Linked DNA regions of Homo sapiens: all the other regions are linked to region 3. Evidence: fine-mapped expression QTL. A gene starts in region 3. Each other region holds a variant in brackets. All regions are shown on one strand. Distances are from middle to middle. Region 1 overlaps GCH1 (GTP cyclohydrolase 1). Region 2 has its middle 60 kb from the start of MIR4308. Region 3 holds the start of GCH1 (GTP cyclohydrolase 1).

Region 1 (4,241 bases), 40 kb after region 3:
TTAGTTATTAGATGTTGTCTAGGAATGACTACTTAACATACCTTTGAGAACATGTGGTATAGAACAAAGAGTTGTCCCATTTCCCTACCCCCATCATAATTTTATTTAATTTTGACTCTTTATTAATAATCTTTAAACAGAAGACTTACAAGAAGCAGTGTTATGAATACTTATATACCCATCAACTAAAGTTAAAGTGTTAACATTTGCTTCATTTTTGTCTTTGTTAAAGTATTGTATCTTTTCACTTTTTTATGGAAATAATATATAGATAGAAAATGCATAAAACTTAAGGGTGTTCCTTACCACTTCAGAGATCAAGAACTAGAATAGGCTGGCACGGTGGTTCATGCCTGTAATCCCAGCACTTTGGAAGGCTGAGGTAGGTGGATTGCTTGAACCCAGGAGTTCAAGACCAGCCTGGGCAACATGGTGAGACCCCATCTCTACCAAGATAAAAATAAAAATTACCTGGGCATGGTGGTGCATGCCTGTACTGCCAGCTACTCGGGAGGCTGAGATGGGAGGATGGCTTGAGTCCAAGAGGCAGGGGTTGCAGTGAGCCGAGATTGCGCCACTATATCCTAGCCTGGGCAACAGAGCCAGACTGCCAGACCCTGTCAAACAAACAAACAAACAAACAACAACGAAACCCCCACAACTACAATATGTGTAGCATCCTGGAAGCTCACCTCATTTCTTTTCTCTTCTTAATCCCTAATCCATCCTTTGTATCAGTTTATCAACTTATAACCCTATGGATTCGTTTTCTTGTTTTTCAACTATATGTAAGTGGAAAGATTCTACGATATGTACTCTTTGTGTCTGGCCTCTCTTGTTCTACATAGTCGGATTCATTGATGTCATTGCCTGTCATTGTAGTTTATTTTCATTGTTATATCTTATTCCATTGTACAAATATACCACAATTTATCTATTCTGCTCTTGGTGGACCTTTGTATTGTTGCCTCTTTTTTTTTTTTTTTTTTTTTTGCTATTACAAACAATACTGCTGTCAATACTTTTTTGGAGTACATGTGCATGCTTTTTTTTTTTTTTTTTTTTTTTTTTGAGACGGAGTCTCGCTCTGTCGCCCAGGCTAGATTGCAGTGGTGTGATCTCGGCTCACTGCAAGCTCCACCTCCCGGGTTCACGCCATTCTCTCACCTCAGCCTCCTGAGTAGCTGGGACTACAGGCGCCTGCCACCATGCTGGCTAATTTTGTTGTTGTATTTTTAGTAGAGAAGGGGTTTCACGGTGTTAGCCAGGATGGTCTTGATCTCCTGACCTCGTGATCCGCCCGCCTTGGCCTCCCAAAGTGCTGGGATTACAGGCGTGAGCCACCGCACCTGGCCCTAAAATATTTTCTTACTTATCCACAGCAGCACTATCACAAAATTAACAATAATTCTTAAATAGTGTCTAATAACGAATTCATATTTAAATTTCTCCAATTGTCTCAAATGTTTACTCTTGGTTTGTTTAAACAGGAATCCAAGGGAGAGTCACACATTTGTATTTACATTGCATTTGGTTATACCTGTTAAGTCCCTTTTGTTCTAAAATAGTGCTCCCACCCATAACATTCTCTACTGAAAAGAAAATAGGCCAGCTGTTCAGCAGAGTGCCCCACCTTCCAGATTTGTTTCCTTCAGCCTCTGGATTTCCTATAAACTAGATTAGATCTAAAGTTTCATAAGACTAGGGCTAAACATTTCTGATAAAAGTAGTTCGTAAGGGCTGGGCACGGTGGCTTACGTCAGTAATCTCAACACTTTGGGAGGCCAAGGCAGGTGGTGGATGTATCGCTTTGAGCTCAGGAGTTTGAGACCAACCTAGGCAACATGGTAAAACCCTGTCTCTACCAAAAAAAAAAAAACCAACCAAAAAAAAAAAAAACGAAAACCAATCAACCAAACAGACAAACAAAAAAACAGGCAAAAATTAGCTAGCATGGTGGCATGCACCTGTGGTCTCAGCTACTCGGGAGGGTGAGGTTGGAGAATCGCTTGAACCCAGGAGGTCGAGGCTGCAGTGAGCCGAGATCACACCACTGCACTCCAGCCTGGCAAGAGAGTGAATCCGTGTCCAAAAAAAAAAAAAAAAAAAAAAAGAGTAGTGCTTCATAAGGGTGCTGAAGACTTCATATTATATCACATCAGGGCCGAGTGAGGTGGCTCATGCCTGTAATCCCAGCGACTTGGGAAGTCAAGGTGGGAGGATAGCTTCAGGTCAATAGTTCAAGACCAGCAAGTGAGACTGTCTCTACCACAAAATAAATTTTTTTTTAAAATTAATTGGGCATGGTGGGTGCATACCTGTAGTCCTAGCTACTTTTTGGGAGTCTGAGGCAGGAAGATTGCTTGAGCTCAGGAGTTTCAGGTTACAGTGAACTATGATCATGCCACTGTACCCCAACCTGGGTGACAGAACAAGACCTTGTCTCTAAAAAGAAAAGAAGAGAAAGCAATCAGAAAACCCAGATACATCACATCAGAAGCCATATCGTATCTGGAAATCCTGCAATTGATAATGAAGGAATCTTTGAAAGGGAATCTATTGGTGAGCAAATTAG[G/A]CACAGAAAGCCTGTGACTTGTTCAAGAGGATAGAGAGAGTTAGTGGCTTGGCTGCAGCCAGATCCAAGGCACTGATTCTGTACTCAGCCTGTCACCATTTTATCCTGTTACTTTCTGCTATTACTTCCTCAGTGTTTGTGTTTTTGCTACCTTTGTTTTAAAAATATATTATTTAGTGATTTTTTTTTTTTTTTTGAGACAGTTTCGCTCTTGTTGCCTAGGCTGGAGTGCAGTGGTGCGATCTCGGCTCACTGCAACCTCCGCCTCCCAGGTTCAAGCAATTCTTCTGCTTCAGCCTCTCGAATAGCTGGGATTACAGGCACCCGCCACCACGCCTGGCTAATTTTTGTATTTTTAGTAGAGATGGGGTCTCACCATGTTGGCCAGGCTGGTCTTGAACTCCTGACCTCAGGCAATCCACCCAAAATGTTGGAATTACAGGTGTGAGCCACCACTCCTGGCCTATCTAGTGATTTTGTGAAATGGACATTTAAATTACCTAGGATCTTAAGACCAAAAATAGTATAAACAATGAACAAATTCCGTGTCTGCATGGAAATGTAAAAATTTCAGACAGCATAGAAGACCTTGGTTCATGGGAAAGTTTTAACTCTCTAATTTTTCTTTGAAATCCTCAATGTTCAGGTGCTATTTTACTTTTTCCTCCTGCCAACCAGGAAGGCAATGAGGTGGACTTCTCAAATTCCTAAAGCATAGTGCCAATGGATGGGGGAAAAAATCACTAAGTACTACTAGATCAATTATGTAAATAGTAAGTGAACAATGAAAACAGTGTTAGCAAACCATGATGCCGTTGAGTCTCTAATTTTATATTCGGTTAATTAATTGCCTACAAGTGACCATTTACTCTATTAATCTTTTCAGAGAACTAATGTTTTTCGTATGTAGTATTTGGCCCCAAAAGAGTAACTTTTATATTTGATATTAATTGGTGCCATTTAAGATAACAGAAATGGCCTGGCTGTATATTGGGTCCTTTAAAACTTAGTTCTTAGGGTGCAGGTTCTTGCCAAGCCATGGTGGTAGCAGTGCCCTTTTTCTCCAGTTAGGAAGATGGGGCCGGGCGTGGTGGCTCACGCCTGTAATCCCAACTCTTTGGGAGGCCGAGGCGGGCAGATCACAAGGTCAGGAGATCGAAACCATCCTGGCTAACACGGTGAAACACCATCTCTACTAAAAATACAAAAATTAGCTGGGTGTGGTGGCAGGCGCCTGTAGTCCCGGCTACTCAGGAGGCTAAGGCAGGGGAATTGCTTGAACCTTGGAGGCGGAGCTTGCAGTGAGCCAAGACTGGGCCACTGTACTCCAGCCTGGGCGACAGAGTGAGACTCCATCTCAAAAAAAAAAAAAAAAAAAAGGAAGATGGTGCACTCTCTAGCAGCTTAGAAACCAGGAAGCCAAGCACAAAAGGGTGTGGAGACCTTCTGTGCTGCAGGGCTTTGCGGTGGGATCTTAAGGCTGTGAGGTGGGATCTTAAGGCTGCTGTGATGTGTGGAATGGCAATACTTATGCTTACAGTTTTTGCCATTTAAAGGAGGCTTTCCTGTATACATTTTAGTGTTGCTATGAGATCATTTGCCTTTCCTTGAGAATGTTTCTCCTCCATAAAGAAGAAACTTTCAGATTTGTGTCAAGAGTTCAACT
Region 2 (4,241 bases), 85 kb after region 3:
AATAGGTAAATGTATGCTGTGCGGCAGAGATGCTTGGTAAGGGAAAGGGGAGGGGGAGTGATTGGGAGATTACTAGTTTGGATAAGTTGTCCAGGAAGATGTTTCTACTTCGGTGGAGACTGAACAGAGCAAAAGAGGGCAGAAGTCAAGAAGACAGCGGAGGGGAGTTTCTGAGGGAGCTGTGAGTGCCCAAGGCCTGAGGTTGGAGCACATTTGATGTATCTGAGTAGCAGCAAGGAGGAAGTCGAGTGTCTCTAGTGCAGGGAGGGAAGCAGAGAGAGGTGGGAAGGGGCCAGGTCATGAAGGGTCTTGTGGGTCATTTAGGACACTGACTTTCACTGAGTGAGATGGGAGCCATTGGAGGGGCTGAGCAGAGAAGCGCAGGATCTGACTTAGGTTTTACAGGGGTACCCCAGTTCCTCTGGTGAGAACAGGGTAAGGGAGAAAGTGATGTCAGCTGGCGGCTCATGATATCCAGGCAAGAGATGCTGGTGTCTTGAACCAGGGTGGCATAGGGGTGTGAAAAGTGGAGGGATTGTGAATAAATTTTAAAGGTAGAGCAGACAGGATCTGTTGACAGATTATGTGAAGTGTGAGAGATGGAAAGGAGCCATAGATGACCCTAAGATTTGTAGCTAGAGCAACTGGAAGACTAGAACTCTCACTGAGGCTCTGGGAGGAATGCAGCTGGAGGGAGGGATGAACAAAGAGCTGGGTCACCAGCAACTCACAGAAGCCAAGCTATAAAATTGGAGTGTATTTATTGATGAACATGCTTACTTGTTTGAATGAGGTGGAGATTGCAAACTGGTGGCTCAGGGGCCGAATCTGGCTGGCCGATCTCTTTGGTTTGGTTCTCACGATATTTACTAAACAATTAAATTAGTTGTTGATGTTTAAAACTCATGGGATTTTATATCAAAATCTGGATTTGTGGCATCTTTTGGAAAAGTGAAAGATATGGCAATGCTGGGTTGTGATGAATAACAGTCCGGCTCTTCGGTAAAGTGTGCCGTGCTCAGTGGGCCGTCCAGTCCCCTACTTTCTCATTGTCTTACAGCCAACTGCTATCCTGTCTGTGCCCTGATTTCCTCATTTGAAAATAGGAGTAATAGTAGTTCCTACCTCCTGGGGTTGTAAGGAGAATTAACAGAGATAACTTATGAGTAGCACTCGAATAGCATTCAGAAATGTGAGCTATTACTGTTATTGCTGTTATTATTGATATTGTTATTATTATTACCTTGCCAGGCTTTGAGTTTGTGTGAGGATTTCAGAAAGCTGGAAGATGATCATAACAGGGATTGAGAGGTGAGTGAAGCTTCCCTTAATCAATGATGGCACCAAACCAGAAAGCAGGAGAGACGGAAGCACAGCTCCCAGACACAGAAAATTGCGTCCGCCTGAGCGGTATCAGCCCCACAAATCAGAGTTAATTTCTCTTCTTCTGCAGAGCTCGGCACAGTGGCCTGGATCACACAGTGACTCATCTAATAGCCCTGTGAGTTTGCCCAGCTTGCGGCATCACAAATTACACTTGCAGCCTCCTTATCAGGCAAGCTAGGAAATTAAACCTAAATGGCTATGGTGTTGCTAAGTAATATGGCTGCGTACACAGACACCCGAAGCTGAGACCATCACGGGCCCATTAAAGCATCATTTCCCGCTGTGGCTAATGAGGTTTGAATCCTTCAAAGGAAACCTGCTGTTCTTTTTTAAGGTCAGAAAGTGGGGTAACTCGGTTATAAGCAAGAGATAGAATTTCCCTTCCTAGATGCTAGGGGTGTGTGTGTTTATGGGTACATATTGGAGCTCTGTGGTCTCATGGCTAAGTGGCGGGGGTTGGGGGGAGATCAGAGACAGCCATCCTGCCCTCCCTGGACCCCTTGACCCTGGGCCAGGAGGGGCCTGGCCAATGGCACTCAGGCGGTTTTAGCTGAGTGCCTACTGGCTTCAATCTGGGAAGCTTCTTAGGAATATGGGGCAGCAGGGGATGACGGCATTCCTGGCATTTTCTTCCTTGGGACAGTTTTTTTCTTTAGGGGGCTTTTCTGTTTCTACAACAAAGTCCTAGAG[C/T]CATGAATGGGGCTCCTGGCCCCCAGGATGCTTGGGCAGCTGAGCTAGACCTGGAAGTGGACTTCATTTTCCCATTTCTTTCCAGTCAGGCCATCCGTGTCCATTTCAGAGTTTGGTTCCTCATGGACCCACAAAGATTAGAGCCTGGGGCACAGCCCCAGCGAGTAAGGCAGTGGCTGTATGTGGCCCCCTGAGTTCACTAACATAGTGACTGAGCATGTGTGTCACTAGCCCAGTGTGGCTCTTCTGAAGCTCCACAGCTGTGCTGGCAGTTAGCTGTTTAGTAAGTCAACACACTGCGGCTGCGTGGTCAGGGAGTTGGGGTCTGCCCCAGCTCCCCTCTGAAAGGATGCCCTCTACCTTCTCTGCTCTGGGCTCCTGAGATGGGTTGGGAGAGTGAATTACCTCCCCTTTAATTAGTATCTTTCATTGCATCTTCTCTACAATGCTGATGATTATTTTTCAAGACTCATTCAGGTGGGTTGGGTCTCACATCACTTCTGCATGGTGACCCGCGTATGGGGCTTACCGGCCACCTGGAGAACAGTGCCTGTGGTACAGTGGGTGTGTTTGTCCTGTCCAGGTCTGAGCGAGCCCTGAGCTTCATCCGCTGGGAGCTTTTGATAATCTGGCCTAGCCAGTCCCAGTCTTCATGAAAAGAAGAATGTGGAGGAGAATTCCAGAGCTGCTTTCTGGCATTCATTTTGTGATGGGAGACATGGCTGTCCCCAAAGGGGACAAGTACTTTTAGATTGGGGATGTTTCTAAATCAAACTCTACATAATCGAGTGCATTCTTTGCATTTTGTGAGCTTGCTGCAGGCTTGGACCTCTCTCCCTAAGGAAGGGTTGTGCTCTGCTGGAACTGGACGGACGTGTGGGGACTCACAGGCTGGCCACTGGTCTGACTGTATTTCCTACATCCCCACACACCATCCTCACAGGGAGGATGACACATGTCATGCCATGAAACACTTGACCAAGCATGGGTCAAAGCCACCAACACATCCCATTTTGTAGTGCCTTGCAAATCTTGTGTAGTTGTGAGCTATGATTTATTTCATGTAAGTGTATTGTGGTGCGTGGCTCCTAGTGGTTACTTTTCATATCATTATTTTTACCAAGTGTTTTCGCTCCTAAATTCAATCAAAAGCTGTATGACTTCTATCCCCTCTACCACTGTTTCCATTCAAGGAAGGAAATGCTGGCCAGATTTAGAGAGTGCCGATTTCATTTCCTTGGAGGGCCATCATTTGCTTGGTTGCATATGTGCTTTTCCTTGGTTGGTTCTTTTCAAAAATTTTTTTTTTAATTTTTATTTTTGTAGCAATCTTCCTGCCTCACCCTCCCAAGTAGCTGGGACTGCAGTCACGCACCACCAAGCCTGGCTAATTTTTAAAATTTTTTGTAGAGACAAAGTCTCTCACTATGTTGCCCAGGCTGGTCTCCAACTCCTGGGCATAAGTAGTCCTTTTGCCTTGGCTTCCCAAAGCATTGGGATTACAGTTGTGAACCACCATGCCTGGCTTAAAATTTTTTATTAAAAACAGAGGCATAAACACACACACTAGCCCAGGCCTACATAGGGTTGGGATCATCCATATCACTGTCTTCCATCACCATATCTTGTTCTGCTGGAAGGTCTTCACGGGCAATAAAGTGCATGGAGCTGTTATCTCCTGTGACAATAATACTGGAATGGACCCTGATGGACCAGTCTGAGGCTGTTTTACAGTTAACTTTTTTTTTAAGTAGAAGTACACTCTAATATAATGATAAAAATGATAGTATAGTGTGTATATATATATATAAGCTAGCAACATAGTCATTTATTGTCAAGAATTCTGTACTGTACATGCTGTACTTTTATACAACTGGGAACATAAGCTTTTTTTTTTTTATGGGATCATACAATTTTGTACCCTGCTTTTTCCATTTAACATCATATTATAAACATTTTCCCATGTCATTAAATTATTCTACATCATCACTTTCATTGCTTATAATTCATAATATGGATGCATTCTAATTTATTTAACCAATCCTCTGTTACGTGACAATTAGGTTAATTCCAATTTTCTTTTTTGCCATTATAGTCATTGCTGTAATGAACATCCTTGAGGTTCCTCTTTGCAGCAACATTTTTTGAAGCGCATTTTTAAGTCT
Region 3 (4,241 bases):
GTCTTTGTGGAATACAATATTAGTTAATCTTTACACATGTTTTTAAAGGAAGACGAAAGATTGCCACTAAAAATAAATTCGTACTGAAAGCATCTCTATCTACTCTCTCCATTTTTAAAGTACCTCACTTAGTATCTTTGTTTTCATTTGTTAAATGCAAGGTCATCCTTTGAATGTTGTCTTCAACTATGCTTGAAATAGCTTGAGACCCAGCAGATAATTCTGACCAGGAGGTATCAGCAGACAGTGGGCAGCACAGTTAGAGGAAAAAAATGTTGCAGGGCCCCACTCCCAATAAAAACCTACAATAAAAAATTTAAAAATTTTAATAAAGAGGAAAATGACAAAGAGGTTTTCCAAAGGATGTTCATATTCTCTATTTAAAAACCCCACTGGGCCGGGTACGGTGGCTCAGGCCTATAATCCTGAGCCCTGGAGTTCGAGACCAGCTTTGGCAACATGGTGAAACCTTATCTCTACCAAAAATACAAAAATTAGCCAGTCTCATAACCCGCTCTTAAATAAATAGATTAAAATTTAAAAATAAATAAATAAATAAATAAATAAATAAATAAATAACCCCACTGATATGAACATTTCTTCCATTTTGGAGTAAAGGTGCCTACAAGGCTAGGCAATGTCCATATTTCTTTCCTGAATGTTTCCAACGGGGCTGCGCCTAGAGCAGATGTATCATAAATACTAATTACTTATTATAATGACCAAGCTACATTGTTAGCATAGAATAATTCCACAGGCTTCCCTATTGGTTTGTTTGATCCTAAGCCTATTAATACCTGCTTCTATGTCAGAAAATCTACATTAGGCCAGGCATGGTGGCTCACACCTGTAATCCCAGCACTTTGGGAGGCCGAGGCAGGTGGATCACCTGAGGTCAGGAGTTCGAGACCAGCCTGGCCAACATGGCAAAACCCCACCTCTCCTAAAAATACAAAAATTTAGCCGGGCATGGTGGCAGGTGCCTGTAATCCCAGCTACTCAGGAGGCTGAGGCAGGAGAATCGTTTGAACCCAGGAGGCGGAGGATGAAGTGAGCCTCAAAAAAAAAAAAAGAAAAAAAATATTATTTTGATACATGTTTTAAAGCTCACCTTCGGCATTATGAGATAATCCCTCAAGTGAGGAAAAAGGTCCATTTATTAATCTCAAAGAAAACAGTTACAGCAGATGTCACTGGTTAAGAGTTCAGTTGGTGAATAGCATTTCACAATTTGTACCAACATCTGGGGAAAGACGCTTTGCATGGAACTGTAAAACAATTGAGCACCAAATCTGCACAACTGCGTTTCTAGAAAATGCGATGGGTTTTATAGAGATGAGGTCTTGCTATGTTTTCCAGGCTGGTCTCGAACTCTTGGCCTCAAGCGATCCTCCCGCCTCGGTCTCCCCAAGCGCCGGGAGTACAGGCGTGAGCCACCGACGGAAATGGATTTTAAGTGAAAGTCCTATCTTCGTTTGCAAATCAATTTTTCCAGGATCAAAGTTCTAGCAACCATAAATCCTATCCTTCTAGACATAGGGACCCACATAAGGGCCACTTGATGTGACACTTGCCCCGACAGCGGTGCCACCTGGCCCCTAGGTGGCAGGTGCGTTTTTAACTAAACCCAAGAGTCTGAAGTCACATTATTCTCTTGCCTTGAAAGCTTAAGAGTTGGTTCCTAATCGGTGGCTTAACTCGGTCTCTCTCCAGGCAAGGCCACCTGTTTGCTGATCTTTCACAGGGCGAGGGGACCGGAGCCCTTCAATGCAGCGCCCTCTTGGCCTGAAGAGGGGGCGACTGGGCGCCCAGACCGCGTCTTTCTCACTGAGATCCCAGCTCCTGGACGACTGCCTCTTTTCGGGTTCGGCTCATTCCGCAATAAGTGGAGGGGTCCCGCCTGATCCTAGGGGCCGGCGCCCTTTTCCTTCCCTCCCTGCGCTTGCGAACCCCTCCGGGCGTCTCCGGAGCCGCGACCCCTGCTGGGGACCCCGGGGGCGGGAGGCCGAGGGGCGCGGCGAGGGCCGTGACGCGAGGCGGGGCCGGCCAATGGGAGCGCTCCGCGGCGCAGGCTGAGCCGCCGGGCCATAAAAAGGAGGCGCGGCCGGGCTTTCCAGCCTGTGGCCGCTCCCGGCTCGGAGTGTGATCTAAGCAGGTTGCGTACCTTCCTCAGGTGACTCCGGCCACAGCCCATTGTCCGCGGCCACCGGCGGAGTTTAGCCGCAGACCTCGAAGCGCCCCGGGGTCCTTCCCGAACGGCAGCGGCTGCGGCGGGTCCATGGAGAAGGGCCCTGTGCGGGCACCGGCGGAGAAGCCGCGGGGCGCCAGGTGCAGCAATGGGTTCCCCGAGCGGGATCCGCCGCGGCCCGGGCCCAGCAGGCCGGCGGAGAAGCCCCCGCGGCCCGAGGCCAAGAGCGCGCAGCCCGCGGACGGCTGGAAGGGCGAGCGGCCCCGCAGCGAGGAGGATAACGAGCTGAACCTCCCTAACCTGGCAGCCGCCTACTCGTCCATCCTGAGCTCGCTGGGCGAGAACCCCCAGCGGCAAGGGCTGCTCAAGACGCCCTGGAGGGCGGCCTCGGCCATGCAGTTCTTCACCAAGGGCTACCAGGAGACCATCTCAGGTCAGTGCGCCCGCGGGCTGCTAGAGCGTGCGGGCGGCGGGGGCGGTGCTTGCAGGAAACGCGCGCCGGCTCCAGGAAGTTTCCGGAGTTGCCTCACTTTTGGCGCAGGAAGCCGGGCGCTGTCACCTCCGAACCCGCCCTAGCCTGCCGCCCTGCCGAGGCCCTGCGTGGGGCACAGTCGGGGCTTCCTGGGTGGCAGCGACCTCTCAGCCCCGGAACTCGCTGCAGCCGCCTTCCAGGGGCCCTTCCCGCTCCCAGCGCGCAGCCCTCCTAGAACGCCCCGGGTGGGCGTGGACGGGAGCCCGGAGCCCTCTCGCCTGAGCGCCCAGCGCGGGATTCTCGGGGTACCTGCGGTTCCAAACTTGCCCACGATAAGGATCACCTGGGCACTTGCTGCGGCGACGGCTTCCTGGGTAGTTCCTTATTGAGATCCCATTGTCAGGGTGTGTATCTGGATTGAAGCCTCGGCGCGATCCTTCCCCGAAACCTCGGGGACCTGCATTCCCACTGATTTGCCAGGGGATCGGAGTCTTAGAGTTGTGCTTTTTTTTTTGTCCACCTCAAGTTTACTCCAGTTCAGGACATTTACAAAATTCGGCACAATTTTGGGCACGGGCTTCCCCGGAGTTTGAGGTGTGAGGTTGATTGGGTGAGTTTGCTGCTGAAATCTGTTTCCTCCCCCCACCCCCAACCCCGCAAAAAGCAGTAAAGCTACTCCGGGATTCGGAGGGCTCCGTGGGTTCCAGGACTCAGTCTCATCCCCGCACCCTCCCACCCTAAAATAAAGCCGGGTTGACCCGGTGCTGTTAGCGTCTGAGGCGTGTCGGCTTTTCACCCAGAGGGTGGGGATGCAATCAGTGTGGGTAGGATGCAAGATGGGGTGATGGAGAGTGGAAAATGGGGACTTTGCTGCCTGTTGGCCAGAGAAGCAGTATTGGTCTGTGTTTAAAAAAATAAAGCTTCTGGCTTCTACAGCTGGGACCAAAGACATTATTTTCCAGTCTACACCTTCCGTGTGTCTTGGTGACATTTATTTATTTGCCCTAAGAAGCATTCTACCGTTCACTGTTTTTTGAAAGAAAAACAGTGCGCTGGAAAGGCAATCTCCCTGCCCCAGTTATTTCTCTGAAGGAGTGTAGAGCGATTCCACCAAATAGACCCTGGGAAAAAGAAAGTTATTTTTTGCCCAGTCTTCCACACCCCAAAGGAAGGGTGGGAAATCAGAATGTGAAAGAGACGGGGCCCCAAAAGGAAATGATGCTACACTCTAAAACCGGCAGTGACTTCTAGTTCTGTTTCCAAATTCACTTTTTTTTACCCCTCAATTGCAAAAGTTTGGAATCTCAGAAGAGATTTCAAAATACAAAGACTGAAAAATAAACTTTCAGTTTTCTGTGGGATCAGCTCTTTGGAGGTCTAGGGCTTTAAATTTGTGTGTGTGTGTGTGTGTGTGTGTGTGTGTGTGTGTGTGTGTGAGATATTTCACAATGTAATGAAATGTCTTCTTAAGGCCTTACTCATTTTGCCCCTTGCAGACACAGAAAGTGGTTTACTTCACAGCATCGGCCAGGCTTTGGGAATCCTCCCTTAAAGAGAATTCATAGGACAGTGTTCTGTAAT

Evidence for each region. PIP is the estimated chance that this variant, and not a neighbour inherited with it, causes the effect. A credible set is the group of variants that fine-mapping cannot tell apart.
Region 1: its variant is the best candidate, but not a certain one, in a credible set for the expression of GCH1 in whole blood (TOPMed, PIP 0.52).
Region 2: its variant is the best candidate, but not a certain one, in a credible set for the expression of GCH1 in whole blood (INTERVAL, PIP 0.57).

Annotation. Positions count from the first base shown.
Region 1 is chr14:54,860,252-54,864,492 of GRCh38, reverse strand. The region is part of intron 2 of GCH1 (GTP cyclohydrolase 1); the gene reads left to right. Among named protein-coding and RNA genes, the nearest start is that of MIR4308, 16 kb to the left of the region's middle. The variant G/A (reference allele first, on the strand shown) is at 2,576.
Region 2 is chr14:54,816,108-54,820,348 of GRCh38, reverse strand. No RefSeq gene overlaps it. Among named protein-coding and RNA genes, the nearest start is that of MIR4308, 60 kb to the left of the region's middle. The variant C/T (reference allele first, on the strand shown) is at 2,077.
Region 3 is chr14:54,900,701-54,904,941 of GRCh38, reverse strand. GCH1 (GTP cyclohydrolase 1) reads left to right here and starts at 2,116. Exons shown (of 6, transcript NM_000161.3): 1 at 2,116-2,621. The coding sequence starts at 2,279. RefSeq lists silencers at 1,762-2,401, 2,812-2,861, 2,872-2,931.